Linked DNA regions of Homo sapiens: region 2 is linked to region 1. Evidence: fine-mapped expression QTL. Tissue or cell type: lung. Region 1 holds a variant in brackets; the other region holds the start of a gene. All regions are shown on one strand. Distances are between the middles of the regions.

Region 1 (8,100 bases):
GGCGGATCACCTGAGGTCAGGAGATCAAGACCATCCTGGCCAACATGGTGAAAACCCGCCTCTACTAAAAATACAAAAATTAGCTGGGCGTGGTGGCGTGTGCCTGTAATCCCAGCTACTTGGGAGGCTGAGGCACAAGAATCACTTGAACCCAGGAGGCGGAGGTTGCAGTGAGCTGAGATCACGCCACTGCACTCCGGCCTGGTGACAGAGCCAGACTCCGTCTCAAAAAAAAAACAAAAAAACAACAAACAAACAAAAATTAGCTGGGCGTAGTGGTGCGTGCCTGTAGTCCCAGCTACTCGGGCTGAGGCAGGAGACTCACTTGAACCCGGGTGGCGGAGGTTGCAGTGAGCTGAGATCGCGCCATTGCCCTACAGCCTGGGCGACAGAGCGAGAGTCCATCTCAAACAAACAAACAAGAACAACAACAACAAACCAAAGTGTTGGCATTACAGGCTCGAGCCACGGTGCCCAGCCTAGGCATGTCTGCATCTTAAAAAACAAACAACCACCCTTGCTGAGATTTTGATAGAAATTGCATTAAACCTACAGATTGATCTGCGAAGAAATGCCACCTTTACTATGTTGAATATTCCAATCCAAGTACACGGTTTGTTTCCATTTATGTAGGTCTGATTTCTTTCATTACAGTTTTGTAGTTTTCAGCATGCAAGTCTTGCACGTTTTGTTAGATTTAGTCCTAAGTATTTCATTTTTCTTTGAGCCATTAGAAATGTTATCATTGTGTTTTAAGCTGGGCGCGGTGGCTCACGCAGGTAATCCCAGCACTTTGGAAGGCTGAGGCAGGCAGATCACTTAAGTTCAGGAGTTCAAGACTAGCCTGGGAAACAACATGAGACCCCGTCTCTACAAAAAAATACAAAAACTTAGCAGGCCATGGTGGCACACGCCTCAGGTGATGCTAAATTAGAGGAGACTGAGCAAGGGCTACCAAGCGCTGCCGCGCAGAGAAAAGCAAGGTTGCAGGCTGGACGCGGTGGCTCACACCTGCAATCCCAGCACTTTGGGAGGCCAAGGTGGGAGGACTGCTTGAGCCCAAGAGTTCGAGACCAGCCTGGGCAGCATAGTGAGACTTGTTCCTATTGGAAAAACAAAACAAGTTGTGAAATGAGGGAGACCTTATTTCCTCATGACAGGCCTGAGCCCCCTGATCCAGTCAGGACAGAAGAACCTACCTTGAGATTCATTTTTATTTTTTGAGACACAGTCCGCTGTCACCTAGGCTGGAGTGCAGTGGTGCAATCTTGGCTCACTGCAACCTCCACCTCCTGGATTCAAGCAATTCTCCTACCTCAGCCTCCCGAGTAGCTGGGACTACAGGCTTGTGCCACCATACCTGGCTAATTTTTTTTTTTTTAGACGGAGTCTTGCTCTGTCACCCAGGCTGGAGTGCAGCGGCACGATCTTGGCTCACTGCAAGCTCCGCCTCCCAGGTTCACGCCATTCTCCTGCCTCAACCTCCCGAGTAGCTGGGACTACAGGTGCCCGCCACCACGCCCGGCTAATTTTTTTTTGTATTTTTAGTAGAGACAAGGTTTCACCGTGTTAGCCAGAACGGTCTCAATCTCCTGACCTCATGATCCGCCCACCTCAGCCTCCCAAAGTGCTGGGATTACAGGCATGAGCCACCGGCTGGGATTACATGCATGAGCCACTACGCCCGGCCTAATTTTTCTGTGTTTTTAGTAGAGAAGGGGTTTCACCATGTTGGGCAGGCTGGTATCGAACACCTCACCTTAAGTGATCCACCAGCCTCGGCCTCCCAAAGTGCTGGGATTACAGGTGTTAAGCCTCATCCCCATCCCACCTCCCACCAAAAAGACACGGGCAGCCAAAGGCAGCGTGGGCGGTCGTTGGTATACATCATACATTTATTAGTGAATATCCCTCTGAAATCAGCAACAATATTAAAAAAAATAATGATTGCACTACTTGGTCAAGCAGAACTAGCAACTTTCATTTTAAAAAAAGTACAAATCTGTTAAAAATTTCAATCAGTATACACATATATATAATACAACATACTAGTTATGTTAAATGCTACAAACCAATGTGAATCCCATGGAATGGAAAAAACCACACATTTAAGCTTTAAGAACCATTTTTTTCTCTATATATTAGCATTTTCTCAAATACATACATGGGAAAAATGAGGTAACTGTAAAATGTGCAAGGAACAGGGCCCCCAAAATTACATATATTTCTACATATATATGTAATTTTATATATATATAAAACCTTTCTAACACAGAACACAGGCGCTGGGCCCAGCCAGGGCTGGGGGAAGGTGCCCACTGTCATGCCTAGGCCAGAAGTTGGTAAATAAGAGAGTAAACAATGGCAAGCCCCCACCACAGGAAATCATTGGTAACATGGCATCTATAGCAAGGTCGGCAGATCACAAACATCCTAAGTAATTGTTGTATAAATCTTGTTTTTTAATGATGATCTTTTTAAATGCTGTGTTTCCCCCCCAATAGCTGCTTGTTGGAATCACTGCTGCAGCCGACACACAATCTGTGAGCCTGTTTCCGCCTGCCCCAGGAACTGTAAGGGGTTTGAAAACGTTTTGTTGGGGTCGGGAAGGGAGGGGTTGGAGAGGGTGGTTCTGTGTAAAACACGTGGGTTTTCAACACTGCTATAAATATAGAAACGTCACCTGGAGTTATATACAGTAAGACTTTGGGTTCTCCATGGGGGTGGGACCAGGCTGACGGGCCCCACGGCAGGCTGGGGCGGGAGGTGGGAGCCAGGGCCACTGCGAGGAGAACGAGGGTGGTTGGAGCATCCCTGAGGCAGCAGGCGCCAGGGGCTGCCTGCTAGGATGTGCCGGCCCCACACGCAGTTCGTTCAGGGCAGCAACCCCAGCTGGGTATAGGACAAGAAAGGATTGGGACCAGGGAAAGTGGGTGGGAAGCTCAGCCAGACCCTACAGCGGCCTCCTCCAGAACTTGGAGGACAGGGATCAGGCTGGGAAGGCCCCCTGGAGATGGGGGTCCACAGCCTTCCTGGTCCCCATCCTCCTGGGACTTCCTTGGAGGAGATTCGCCCAGGCAGGTGGGAGTTGGGCCCTGGCTGGAGGGAGAAATGCCCTGAAAAGCGTCGGGTCCCGGTAGGCTCTAGGGACGTGTGCAGTACAGTGCATGGCAGTTATCAGCTGAGCACAGACCCCCAACCCTGCCCCACGACCGCCGGCCGCCCAGCCCAGCCCGGCACACGCATGCATGCAGGCCGGCCAGCATGACCGTGCTCGGCCCCCTGGGCACTCGGTCCCAGTTGGTCCCTATACCCGCCCCTATTAAACCAAAAGAAAAAAGAAATTGTCTTAAATATCCACATCCCCAAATCCTACACGTGATTTTGGGCCAAATGAATGAACAAAAACTGCTGCTCCTCACGTTCATGCAAAACAACAGAGGGAGAGGAGATTGGGCACGGGTCTGGCTGCATCCCTGGGAGGGACAACCACCGGGAACACAGGGCTCCCTCTCCCCGTATGGCCCAAGCCCCTCAGGATACGTGTGCCCCAGCTCGGGATTAGGCTGGGACGCCCTCCAGCCTGAGGGTGGGGCTGGAATGTTGTTCCTGGGATGAGGGTCCCCTAGGGAACCAGACTCAGCCCTCACAGCAGCCAACACAGAGCCAGCTGCCTGAGTTCACTGTTCGGGGTCAAGGAGGGGGGATTCAGCCCTGGGGCTCAGGAAATGGCTCGTGACACCGTCTGTCTACGCACCTGGCAGTGCCACCTGGGCAGAGGGCACGCCATTTCAGAGCATGAGACCTTCTGACCCAGGATGGTGCTCTGTCTGCCCATCCTGGGGCCAAGGATCTCCACCGGCCCCACTGAGGGAGCGGACCCCTGGCACTCAGTGCCAGCAGGAAAAGGAGGGACCTGAGGGTGCACAGGAGGGAGACCC[G/A]ATCAGGGACACTCAGGCAGCTCCGTGGCGGGCGGGCAGGCAGGCAGACTAGGGAGGGAGTCTTTGGAGCTTGGCAAATGCAGGGGCTTATTGCAGGGACTCCTCGCTGGGCTGACCCTGGCACCAGCTCTGGAAATGCAGGCAGGAGCGAAGGGGCAGGCCTGGGCCACTCCCTCCCCATCCTCCCTGGGCCCCACCCACAAGTTTCCAGAGCTTCAGGCAGGGTTCTCCCGGGCAGGCGGCTGCGTGGCCTCACTCAGCCTCCCTGGGCACCTCGGAGGCGTCGGCCCGGCAGATGGGACACGTCCGGTTGGCCTGTGGGAACATGCACGTCAGGCGTTGCTCTCACCAGCCCCAACCCACCACATCTGTGCAGCCACCTGGGGGGACTTGGTCCGCTGGAGCCAGAACTTCCGAGATGATGACAAGGACAAGGAGGGAAACAGCCCAGGCCAGCCCATCCCCCCGTCACTGCATGAGGAATACCCAGGAGCAGACCTGGGCAGTGTTACCTTCAACCACTTGTCAACACACTTGGTGTGGAACTCATGGTTGCAGGGGAGGACTCGGAGCAGCTGCCGCGCCTCGAAGTCACTGAAGCAGACCACACACCTGTGGAGGGGCGCGGAGCGTCACCTCCACGCTGAGGGCCATGGGAAGGCTCAGTGGAGTGTGACTCCCCTGAGAGGGGCGTCCCACGGCAGCCAGCTGTGTTCAGAGGGGTGGGAGGTGGGGCAGGGTACTCACAGCGTCTGCTCCGACTGATGGCTGTCCGGGTTAAAGCGGTACGACGGGAGCTGCTCTATGTCTGCTTTGGTGAGACCCCGGGGCTTGGCATCTCCCAGCCGCTCGGCCAGGTTCAGGAGGGCCTGCATGCGGGCAGGAGACGGGGTCAGCGGCGCCCAGGGCTGCAGGTCTCCCAAACCCCACCTCCCAGCATGGGGCTCCATGGGACCTCATAGTTCTCCATCTCCACATCATCCACGTCCAGGTCCAGGCTGATGGTGGGCCCCATTGCTGTTGGTGACATTGGCAGCATCGAGCTAGAGAGAGACAAGTGTGGGGGCCCAGGGTCAAGGTCAGGAGTGGGGCACACAGAGCCGCTCTCCTGACTCCCTCCTTGCAAACAGAGCCCAGAACGTTGCAGCGGGGAAGGGAGCCCAGCTGGCGTGCCTGTCAGGTTAAGGGGGGAACGCCAGGTGGCTTCAGAGGCCCTGGGGCCCCTGGAGCTGTGTTTAGGTCTAACCACTGGAGGTTCCAGGAGAACAGGGCATCAGGGACCTGGGGCGGATGTGCGGATACTTACAGGAAGTAGGGCAGGAAGCTGGGGTAGTAGGGTGGTGGGGGTGGGGGTGGGGGCGGCGGGGGCAGTGGCTGCTGCAGGCGGTATCTCTGGGTGCTCAGTCTCCGTGGCATCATGTGAGAATATGGCTGCAAGAGGGGCCAGGTGCAGGTCAGCCCAGCAGGCCTGCCTCCCAGCCGCCCCGGAGCCCAGGTGCAAGTCAGCCCGGTGGGCCTGCCTCCCAGCCGCCCCGGAGCCCAGGTGCAAGTCAGCCCGGTGGGCCTGCCTCCCAGCCGCCCCGGAGCCCACGTGCAAGTCAGCCCGGTGGGCCTGCCTCCCAGCCGCCCCGGAGCCCAGGTGCAAGTCAGCCCAGCAGGCCTGCCTCCCAGCCGCCCCGGAGCCCACGTGCAAGTCAGCCCGGTGGGCCTGCCTCCCAGCTGCCTGGGAGCCCAGATGCAGGTCGGCCCAGCGGGTCTGCCTCCCAGCTGCCCTGGAGCCCAGGTGGGGGTCGGGGTGGCACTCACCACACCAAAGGACAGCTCCTGGTGCAGCGGATCGTGGGGCAGGTAGTGCAGGGGCACCGACGGGGAAAGGGCTGGGCCAGGCGCAGAGGTGGAGTAGGTGAAGCTGCCCAGGGAGGGCTGGTCCCCACGCAGGTCCACGTCGTTGTCGAGCCGCTGGAGGGGCTGGAAGAACCAGCGCCGGGTCAGCAAGTCAGTGAGACGAGGCTGTCCTCACCCTGCCTCCCCCCACGCCATCTCCCTCCAGCATCGGACCCATGCCGACTCACCATCCGAGGGTGCTGGGTCTGCAGAGACACAAACTGCCCCAGGGGCGCCATGTGGGTGGGCTGGGGGGGTGGGGCCGGTGGTGGGGGGTGCAGGATGTAGTGGTCACTGGAGATGAGGTGGGGGTAGGCCTGATAGGGCACAGGCAGCTGCTGCATGGTGCACGCCTGGATAAGCTGCCAAGAGAGGGGGCAGGGGGCTGAGAACGTTCTCCTGGGCTCTGGGCCAGGTCTACGCCATGCCACCCAGCAAAAGGCCCCCACCGGGCACACACCCAGCAGCTCCAGGGTCTGTATAAGAAACCCTGTGGAAGGCCCATCCCTGTCCTAGGCCACCCAGGCAGGACACTCCACTGTTAAGGCCCACAGCCTCAACTCCTGGGCCTCTGCCAAGCTGTGAGGCAGGTACAGGGGTACTGGAAGGTTCCTGAACCTTGAAACACTCTATTACCAAATGTGAACACGCGTATGCTTTCCTGGGGAGGCCAGGCAGGCGCTCTGACAGCCTGGATGGCTGGATAGCTCAGCCCAGTTCAGGGCTGCCCTGGGCCCGCTGAGCCGCTGGCCTGTGCCTGGGGCTTGCAGCTGGTGGAGGAGGAGCTAGAAACACTCACTCACCGGGGGCGGGAGGCAGCAGAGGGGGTAATGCTGCCCACTGAACATCACGGAGCATGCTGGGAGCTGCTGGGCACTGCAGCCAGGGATGTGCTGGCCTGTAGGCAAGGGGAAGCCTTGGGTCGTCACTGTGGTGACCGTGTAGGACAGAGGGACAGGTCCCTGGTGCACCTGTGGGTGGAGAGAACGCCGGGAAAGTATGAAAAGGAAGCTGACCGCGAGGGCTACTCTCAGGAGAAATCATCCTGCCACATCCAGCTGCCGGCTCCCTTCCCTTCTCCACGGCGGCCTACCTCAGTGCAGACCAGACTGTGCCTCTACTCCCAGGCCCCCGGGGCAGAGAAAGCCCCGTGGGAATCTAGCTCTGCTAGTCACCCAGTGTGGCCCTTTCCCCGGGCCTCAGTTTACCTACCTGTAAAGCAGGGCCAATAATGCCTCCCTGGAACGTGAAATGAAGCAAGCTAGGTGAAATCTAGGCCTTGCTGCCTCTGCCTCTCAGACTGGCTCACAGGGCCAGGGGCACAGGGGATGGGGTTCTGCCTACCTGCTCGTGGAGATCAACCATGAACGGGCTCTGCTGGGTGGCTGGGTGCAGCATTCGGGGGCTCCCGCCGGCAGGAGCCGAGGCTCGGCGCTCCTCTACGGGGAGGTGTGGAGGTCGGGACGGCGGCTGCTGGGAGGGTAAGCGCTCATCCCGGGCAGGCGGGCTGGCCAGGGGGCCCTCGAGGCCAGGGCTGCACCACAGAGAGGAGGCCCCGATAGGACTGAGGGGGGCCACTCGTGCACAGAGCAGGGAGAGAAGCCAGGGTGACTCCCCCCATGGGGAGGGAAGGCAGCTCAGGGCCCTGCGCCCCACCCCTGCTGGCCCCCATGCCCCAGCACCAGGACTGGGAGGCTCCTTCCTACCTTCCCCAGAGCTGGCCCGGGGTGCTGCCAGGTCCCGCAGAGAATCGCCGCTGGCCCACGGGGGCGGAGGGTGGCCACCTAGTCACTGCCAGAGCCCATGGTCGCATCGGGGGGGCAGGGGGGTGGAGGGGCTGGGCCGGGACTCACAACCCTAGGAGGCAAGGAGACAAGAAGACTGAGGCACCTGGCCAACATGGTGAAACCTCGTCTCTGCTAAAAATACAAAAACTAGCCAGGCATGGTGGTGGACACCTGTAATCCCAGCTACTTGGGAGGCTGAGGCATGAGAATCGCTTGAACCCGGGAGGCGGAGGTTGCAGTGAGCTGAGCTGAGATCGCACCACTGCACTCTAGTCTGGTGACAGAGCGAGACTCCCGTCTCAAAAAAAAAAAAAAAAAAAGAAAGAAACTGAGGCACAGAGAAGTCCAGGCGCTTGTGCCATGAGGGGTCAGGAGACAGAACCAAACCTCTGCAGTGTGACCCCAGGGACCAATGGTGTTCAGCCGTGCCCCTCCTCCGAGCCCTGGGGTCCAGTGCTGACACGCCAGGACAGCTCAGCCTGCCAGCA
Region 2 (8,100 bases), 110 kb before region 1:
GACTCATCTCAAAAAAAAAAAAAAAAAAAGAATGCTTTTTTGGCTCCATTTATTCTCCAAGGTCCAGCTCATAAGTCACCTCCTCTGGGAAGCCCTCCTCTGCTTCCTTTACTTCCCTAGGCACTTACGGAAGGTCTCACTTCCGGGGTATCCCAGGATATCATACAGTATCCTGCACCCTCTTGTGCAATTACTCATGACCCCCAGGGTCCGTGTGTACCCCCTTACCAGGCTCCGTGTCCTATTCAGCTCCTCAGGGCTCCAGCACGGAATGGGTGAGCAGTAACTATTGGCTAAATGGAAGTTGAATTGTTGTTTTGAGGCCTGCTGTTATCTGCAAGGCTCTCAGAAACTGCTGTGCCTCCTAGCAAAAAGCCATGGAGGCCACATGAGGTTAATAGGCAGATGGACAAATAGCCCTTCACCAGCCAGACAGGGCTGTGAGCAGCGACAGTGTGTTTGGCCTGGGGACTCAAGGGAAGGGTACTTAATCCCATGGAAATAATCCCCGGGTGACATAAATCATAATTGACTTTGCTTTCAGAGTCAACCAGTGATTGATTCCAACCAACTCTGTCAGCTGTCACTCCCATTCCTTCAGATAAGGCTTCTCCTGCATGGGTGTCCTGGCCCCTAAATCACAGTGGGACCAATAGCATTTCAGTGGCAGCATCTTCTGCAAAGGGGCTTCTTCTGCTGGGGTGTCTCCTCTAGCAGGGCCTCACGTTACCAGGGTCTATTCCCTGTGATGCCGGTCTGTACATTTGGCCTTCTCGAGAATTTGCACCACCCTACTCCGCCCTGACCAACCCCAGTCTCAGACCCCACATCTACACACAGCTGCCTGGGGTCTACCCTGACCTTCAGAAAGTCTCTCTGCCTCAGCCTCGAGAGTGTTCCTCTGGACATGCAGTTTCGGCCTCCTTAAGAGTCCACACACACCTACACAGCATTCCAAGTACCTGTTCCCACAGTGCTCTCCACCCACCCACTGCCCATCTACCACCGGGAGTCCACACTCACAGGCCAGCAGAACAGGACTGAGACAGAGACACGTCCCAGGGATAAACCCCTGAGGGTTTGCTTCCCTCAGCTGCCTGACCCATTTTGGAACAAGGGCAGAGAGGGTCCAGAACATTCCTGTGAGCTTACGAGGCCCAGCGGGGGAAATGGGCTTGCCCAGAACTGACAGGCAAGTCAGAGCCAGGCCTGGTGCTCAGAAAACTGGGTGTGAAAATGGAAACCTACCCAAGGCTGATGAATGGAAACAAAGTGTCCATCATCCAGATCACCCAGGGCCACAGATCCAGCCAGAGAGGAGGGGCTCCCTGTGGCTCCAGCACAGGCCTACACCAGATACCTCTTTCCCCAGGGGCAACTGAGCCCAGTGTCAGCACAGAGATTGCTAATCTGAGGACCCCAACATCTAAGAGAAGGTGCCTCAGAGGTACTGACTGGCGGCCGCTGCTAAGCCAGCTTTTGCCCAGCTCTCAGCAGGCCAGGGCGCTTTTTCTCTGCCCCATCCAGGCTCCTGGCACACATCCCTGGTCAGGGGAAGATTACCTGTTCAGCACTGCATAGGCTGAGAAGGTCAGATCAATTCTAGCCCATCTGGCCATCCACTGAGCCGCCATCCCTCAACACCTCCCTGCTCCCCGATCCAACTAAGGAGGGCAGCTGAGCCTTTGCAGAGTCAGCAGGTATGCGCCTGGGAGACCCTCAGAAGGCTGTATCCCCGGCACCTCCCTGGAAGAAGCGAGCGTGTCATTGTTTCTCTCCCTGTCACCTCTGGTCTGAGGCCAATTTGTGCCCCACCCCTGCCAAGGACAGAACTTGCCATCCAGACTGTAAGTCCCTGGAGCCCCACCATCCTGGGAGAGGCCACAACCTGCTCAGCTCCCTCAGGCATCTGGCTGCCCTCAGCCTGAATCCCATCTTTTCTCTCCTGAGGTTCTCACAATGGCTCCCCTCAGCAGGACCTCCCCACAAGGCCTCCCTCCTCTTCCCTGCACCCCGACCCCAACAGGCCCCAGTGAGCCAGACTGAGGAAAAGGGTGGTCTCACAGAGGTGTGGTCCAGTGAATACTGGTGCATTAACTGGGGCAGGCATTTCTTAGGAATTCCCTGGGACACGGCAGATTCTGTATTGAGGTGCTGGAAGCTTCCACTTCAGAAGCCCTCCATTGCTGTCTCAGATAGGTGGCAAAAGACCCCATGCTTCTCACCCCACATCCTATCTCCTGCCAGGGAGGTGACTGCTATAGAATCTTTTTTTTTTTTTTTTTGAGACAGGGTCTCACTCTGCTGCCCAGGCTGGAGTACAGAGACGTGATCACAGCACACGGCGACCTACCTACACCTCCCGGGCTCAAGCTATGCTCCTGCCTCAGCCTTCCCGAGCAGCTGGAACTACAACTACAGCTACATGCCACCATGCCTGGCTAATTTTTGTATGTTTTGTAGAGATGGGGTTTCACCATGTTGCCCAGGCTCCACAGCATTTGAAAGAGCATGGAGCCCAGAGTTGGGAGGCGTGGGATCAAGTCCTAGATTGGTCATTCCTGGCTGTGTGACTCTGGGCAAGATACTCAGATTCTCTGGGCCACCGGTTTCTTGCATGTTACAAAAGCCTGGTTACATTTCTCATATCAAGGAGATACAGAGTTGCTTCAAACTCCTCAGCCACAGGAACTGTCTTATTCATTTCTGTATCCCCAGCGTCCTGACACACAGTAGGTGCTCAGTAAACGTTGAATGGATACAAACATGACTGTGAAGAGCCTTGTAAACATCATTAACCAAAATATGTCTATATGTATATATGTTAGCACTTACTACAACAGGCCCATAAACCTTTCCAAAATGACATCAACAGGAAGTAAAACCTGTTTTGGATGTACCCATGAAGGTGATATCTACTTTTTTACTAAATATTTTACAAAATCATTCTTGCTAGCCAGAACCAGGGCAGAAACATCATTGATAAAGATGATTTCACAGGGACTAGGCCCTGAACACTGAGGTCTGAAGCCAATCACAGTAAATCATAATAGCCCCGGACCACCTTTGGAAAACCATTAAGTCGACAACTACAAAACCCTGAAGGGCCCTACCGCATCTGACTGATGCCTCTTTGTGGCCCACACTCCGGTGTCTAACTCAGAGCCAGACACTTGGTAGGCAGTGTGGTCAGGTGGAGAGGGCTTCAAGTCCGACAGGAACAGGTTTAAATTCACGGCCAGGTGTGGTGACTCACACCTGTAATCCCAACACTTTAGGAGGCAGAGGTGGGAGGATTGCTTGAGCCCAGGAGCTCAAGACCAGTCTGGGCAACATAGCGAGACCCCATCTCAAAAAAAGGAAAAGAAAAAATATATATGTAAAAGAAAAAGAAACAGGTTTAAATTCTTGATCTGCCACTTACTAGTTATTTCAATAGCATACTCCCTTGAGCCTCAGTTTTACCATCTCTGAAATGGGTTCAATCACGTGTATGAAGTGATTAAATGTAACCAAGGCGCTTAGCCCAGCGACTGCCGAATGCCAGGCGGTCACCGGGGAAGGTTAGTGAGTTCCTGGAGCACCCAGGATCCTCTTTTTTCCCAGCTGCAGGAGAGAGCTAAGCCTGAGGGGCCAGGAGGGCTGTGTTCTGCCCACACCTGCACACTTAGCTGGGAGCCTGGGACACCCAGGCTATTAGGAGGCTCAGGAGGGACTCTCAAAACTGAGGTGGGGTTGGATTCCAGAGCCGGGCAGTGGGGAAGCTGGCCTGGGGATGAAATGTCATGACCGAATTCCTGTCCCGGGAGTCACCAGATCCACAGCCCCAGGCGAGGCCTCATCCCCAGCTCGGAAGTCCTACATGGAGATCTCCAAGAAGATTCTTCCCCACGTCTCCCAGCTCCTGCCCCGGGTGGCCTAGAGCAGGCTCTCTTCCCTGTGCCCCTGGGCCCCGGCCGGGGTCCCCCGGGTGCGCGCCCTGAGCCCCTCTCCAGGCCCCGCGCTGACTCACCCCCACTCGTGGGGCCCGGCTGCGCGGGGGCCGCATGGCTGCCGGCAGGTGCCCCGAAGCCCTCGTCGTTCTCTATGCCTGCAATCTCGCTCTCCTGCTGGGCCAGGAAGGCGGCCGCCGGGTCCTCCTCCGCCGCCTCCGGGGCACCGCTCTCCGACGACGAGAAGAAGCCAAAGTCATCAGCCATTTTCCCCGCGCCTCCGCCGGAGCCTCCGCTGCGCTCGGCTCTGCCCGCGCCTGCCCCGCGCTGCGTCCGGCGGCCGCGACGCTGTCACCCGAGCCGCGGGGGAGCCGGCGTCGGCGGGGACGGGCTTGGCGCGGACCGCACTTCCTCTCCGCCACCGGGCCCGGCTGGCTGTCACTGCGGTGCGGGCGCCGCGGCGGGAGGAGCGGAGCCGGAATGCGGTGACGTCACCGCGGGGGCGGGGCCGCAGGGCCGGGAGGTCGCCGAGCAGCGGCCGCAGGAGGGCGCCTCAGGACTGGGCGCAGCGCTGGGCCCGGGACCGGCGCGGCGCTTCCCTCCCTCCGCAGCGGCGCCCAGCTGCTCGCGTCGAGGACACCTGGGCTAGGCACTGCTCCCGCCCGGCCTGGAGGCGAAACGCAGGGCACAGAGTGGCCGTACCGTGCACAGAGCTGCGACAGGAGGCCACCTCTGGCCTCGGGAGCGCAGACCTGGCTCCTGATTCATTCTGCAGAAGTTTCTTCTCCTAGGTTGGGATGTCATGCACCTCATTCTATGAGCCTCCGCCTCTGTAAGAAGAGGAAAATTGAGGCTGGGAAAGGCTGCCCCGCACCTTTTCATGCAAGTCCAGGTCCTTTCCCACTAGGCCGTGTTGTTTTGTGTATTTTTTTGTGTATCTCCCTTGAGGAGGCTTCAGTTCATACGACCAGAGTTTGGATGGCCAGCTAGGCCCCTTAAATGTCCTTTAGGTATGAACCAGCCTGAGAAAGGCAGACCTGGTTTACCCAGGCAGCCTACCACTCTCCACGCTGCCCGCTGCCCTCTGTGAACAGGCTCTGAATGCCTCCTCCCTGCCTGCGCTTTGCCAAGCACCAGGACAGCAACGTTTTATAAAATCCAGCCATGGCCATGCGGAGATTACAATCCGGTGAGACCAACAGATGGCAAATGGCCTGTCAAAGCACTGTGTGTGAGGCGCTGTGACATTTAAACACGGGGTATAGGGAGACGATGCAAAGAAACACCATGGGATTTGGGCTGTCTGCTATTTCTAATGTGGGACTTGAAAGGCAACTATGAAATATGGACTGGAAGAGCGAAAGGAAAGATGTGCCGCCAAGTTGGGGGTGGAAGTGGAGTTGGGGTGAAGGGACCTTCCAGGTGTTTTTTTTTTTTTCTTTTTAATTTTTTTATTTAGAGACAGGGCCTCGCTATATTAACTGGGCTGGTCTTGAACTGCTGGCCTCAGGGGATCCTCCTGCCTTGGTCTCCCAAAACACTGGGATTACATGTGTGAGCTACCAAGCCCAGCTGGAACTTTCAGTTTAATTGGTAACAACTTGAGCACCTTTTGATGTTACTGTTTTTGGGGGGGTTTTTATTGTTTTATTTAATTAAATTAATGTATTTATTTATTGCTGTCCATTTGCATGGTTTTGTTGTTGTTGTTTGTTTGTTTTTTGTTTTGAGACAGGATCTTACTCTTGCCCAGGCTAGAGTGTAGTGGTACGATTATAGTTCACTACAGCTTCAACTCCTGGGCTCAAGTGATCCTCTCATCCTCAGACTTCCAAAGAGCTGGGATTACAGGCATGAGCCAACACACCTGGCCTTTTTGATGTTATTGTAAGTGGAAGTTTTATCTTCTTTTTTGATTGCGTATTGTTAATGCATAGAAATTTAACTGATTTTTGTGCATTGGCTTTGTATCCTGCTGCTTTGCTGAATTCATTTATTAGCTCTAACATTTTTTGTGTGTGGAATATTTAGGGTTTTCTGCAGATAAGAGCTTATTAGCCAGGTGCCATGGCTCATACCTGTAATCCCAGCACTTTGGGAGGTGGAAGTGGGTGGATAGATTGAGCCCAGGAGTTTGAGACCAGTCTGGACAACGTGGCAAAACCCCATCACTACTAAAACTACAAAAAATTAGCCAGACATGGTGGTATGGTGCCCGTAGTCCCAGTTACTCAGGAGGCCGAGGTGAGGGAATCACCTGAGCCCGGGAAGTCAAGGTTGCAGTGAGCTATGATTGTGTCAGAGGTGTGTGAATCAGAGCAAGTCCGTCGTAAACAGGATCTGGGTAAAATGAGGCTGAAACCTACTGGGCTGCATTCCCAGACGGTTAGGGCATTCTAAATCACAGGATGAGATAGGAGGTCAGCACAAAATACAAGTCATAAAGACCTTGCTGATAACACAGTTTGCAGTGTTGGGCAAGGTGGCCCACGCCTGTAATCCCAGCACTTTGGGAGGCCAAGGTGGGCGGATTGTGAGGTCAGGAGTTTGCGACCAGCCTGGTCAATATAGTGAAACCCCGTCTCTACTAAAAATACAAAAAATTAGCTGGGCATGGTGGCAGGTGCCTGTAATCCCAGCTACTTGGGAGGCTGAGGCAGGAGAATTGCTTGAACCCGGGAGGCGGAGGTTACAGTGAGCCGAGATCTCACCACTGCACTCCAGCCTGGGTGACAGTGCAAGACTCAGTCTCAAAAAACAAACAAACCAACAAACAACAACAACAAAAACCAGGTTGCAGTAAAGGAGCCAGCCAAAACCCACCAAAACCAAAATGGTGACAAGAGTGACCTCTGGTCATCCTCACTCCCACCAGTGCCAGGACAGTTTACAAATGCCATGGCAACATCAGGAAGTTACCCTATACGGTCTAAAAAGGGAAGGCACGAATAATCCACCCCTTGTTTAGCATTTCATCAAGAAATGGCCATGAAAATATGCAACCAGCAGTCCTTGGGGCTGCTCTGTCTATGGAGTAGCCATTCTTCTATTCCTTTACTTTCTTTTTCTTTTTTTGAGGTGGAGTCTCGCTCTGTTGCCCAGGCTGGAGTGCAGTGGTGCGATCTCGGCTCACTGCAAGCTCCACCTCCCGGGTTCACGCCATTCTCCTGCCTCAGCCTCCCAAGTAGCTGGGACTACAGGAGCCTGCCACCATGCTCAGCTAATTTTTTTTTTTTTTGTATTTTTAGTAGAGACGGGGTTTCACCCTGTTAGCCAGGATGGTCTCGATCTCTTGACTTCATGATCTGTCCACCTCGGCCTGCCAAAGTGCTGGGATTACAGGCGTGAGCCACCGTGCCCGGCCCCTCCTTTACTTTCTTAATAAACTTGTTTTCGCTTTGCACCAAGGACTCACCCTGAATTCTTTCTTGCGTGAGATCCAAGAACCCTCTCTTGGGGTCTGGATTGGGACCCCTGTCCTATAACAATCACACCACTGCGCTCCAGCCTGGGCAATGAGAGTGAGACCCTGTCTCTAAATAAATAAATAGCATCTGCAAACAGAGATACTTCTTACTTTCCAATCTGGGTTGCTTTTATTTCTTTTTCTTGCCTAATTTCTCTGGCTAGGACTTCCAGTACTATGTTGAATAGAAATACCAAAAGTGGGCATCCTTCTGCACAAGTTGTCCAAATCAAACTGGAGTCACTTATGCCAAACCCTAGCAAAATGGACTCAGGAGGCCATAAATGAGGGGCTCCCATGCACACATGCCTATGATAGAAAATATTACAAGGACTGTCTGAGGCTGGGCACGGTGGCTCATGCCTGTAATCCCAACACTTTGGGATGCTGAGATGGGCGGATCACCTGAGGTCTGGAGTTCAAGACCAACCTAACATGATGAAACCCCGTCTCTACTAAAAATACAAAATTAGCTGGGTGTGGTGGCACACACCTGTAATCCCAGCTACTCAGGAGGCTAAGGCAGAAGAATTGCTTGAACCTGGGAGGCAGAGGTTGCAGTGAGCCGAGATTGCCCCATTGTACTCCAGCCTGGGCAACAAGAGCAAAACTCCGTCTCAAGAAAAAAAAAAAAACCCAACAACAACAACAACAAAAAACAAGGATTGTCTGAAACCACAATCTTGCACAAAGGCCGTCACA

What was found. PIP is the estimated chance that this variant, and not a neighbour inherited with it, causes the effect.
Region 2: it holds the start of CLTB, and the variant in region 1 is fine-mapped to the expression of CLTB in lung (GTEx, PIP 0.97).

Annotation. Positions count from the first base shown.
Region 1 is chr5:176,524,835-176,532,934 of GRCh38, forward strand. RNF44 (ring finger protein 44) reads right to left here. Exons shown (of 11, transcript NM_014901.5): 2 at 7,532-7,682; 3 at 7,170-7,359; 4 at 6,629-6,796; 5 at 6,014-6,187; 6 at 5,748-5,909; 7 at 5,248-5,372; 8 at 4,897-4,984; 9 at 4,689-4,810; 10 at 4,454-4,553; 11 at 1,878-4,256. The coding sequence starts at 7,638. The coding sequence ends at 4,194. Among named protein-coding and RNA genes, the nearest start is that of RNF44, 8.5 kb to the right of the region's middle. The variant G/A (reference allele first, on the strand shown) is at 3,942.
Region 2 is chr5:176,412,165-176,420,264 of GRCh38, forward strand. It overlaps CLTB (clathrin light chain B), which reads right to left and starts at 4,375. Exons shown (of 6, transcript NM_007097.5): 1 at 4,013-4,375. The coding sequence starts at 4,199. It also overlaps a transcript of ARL10 not described here. RefSeq lists silencers at 3,878-3,957, 4,068-4,167, 4,208-4,667.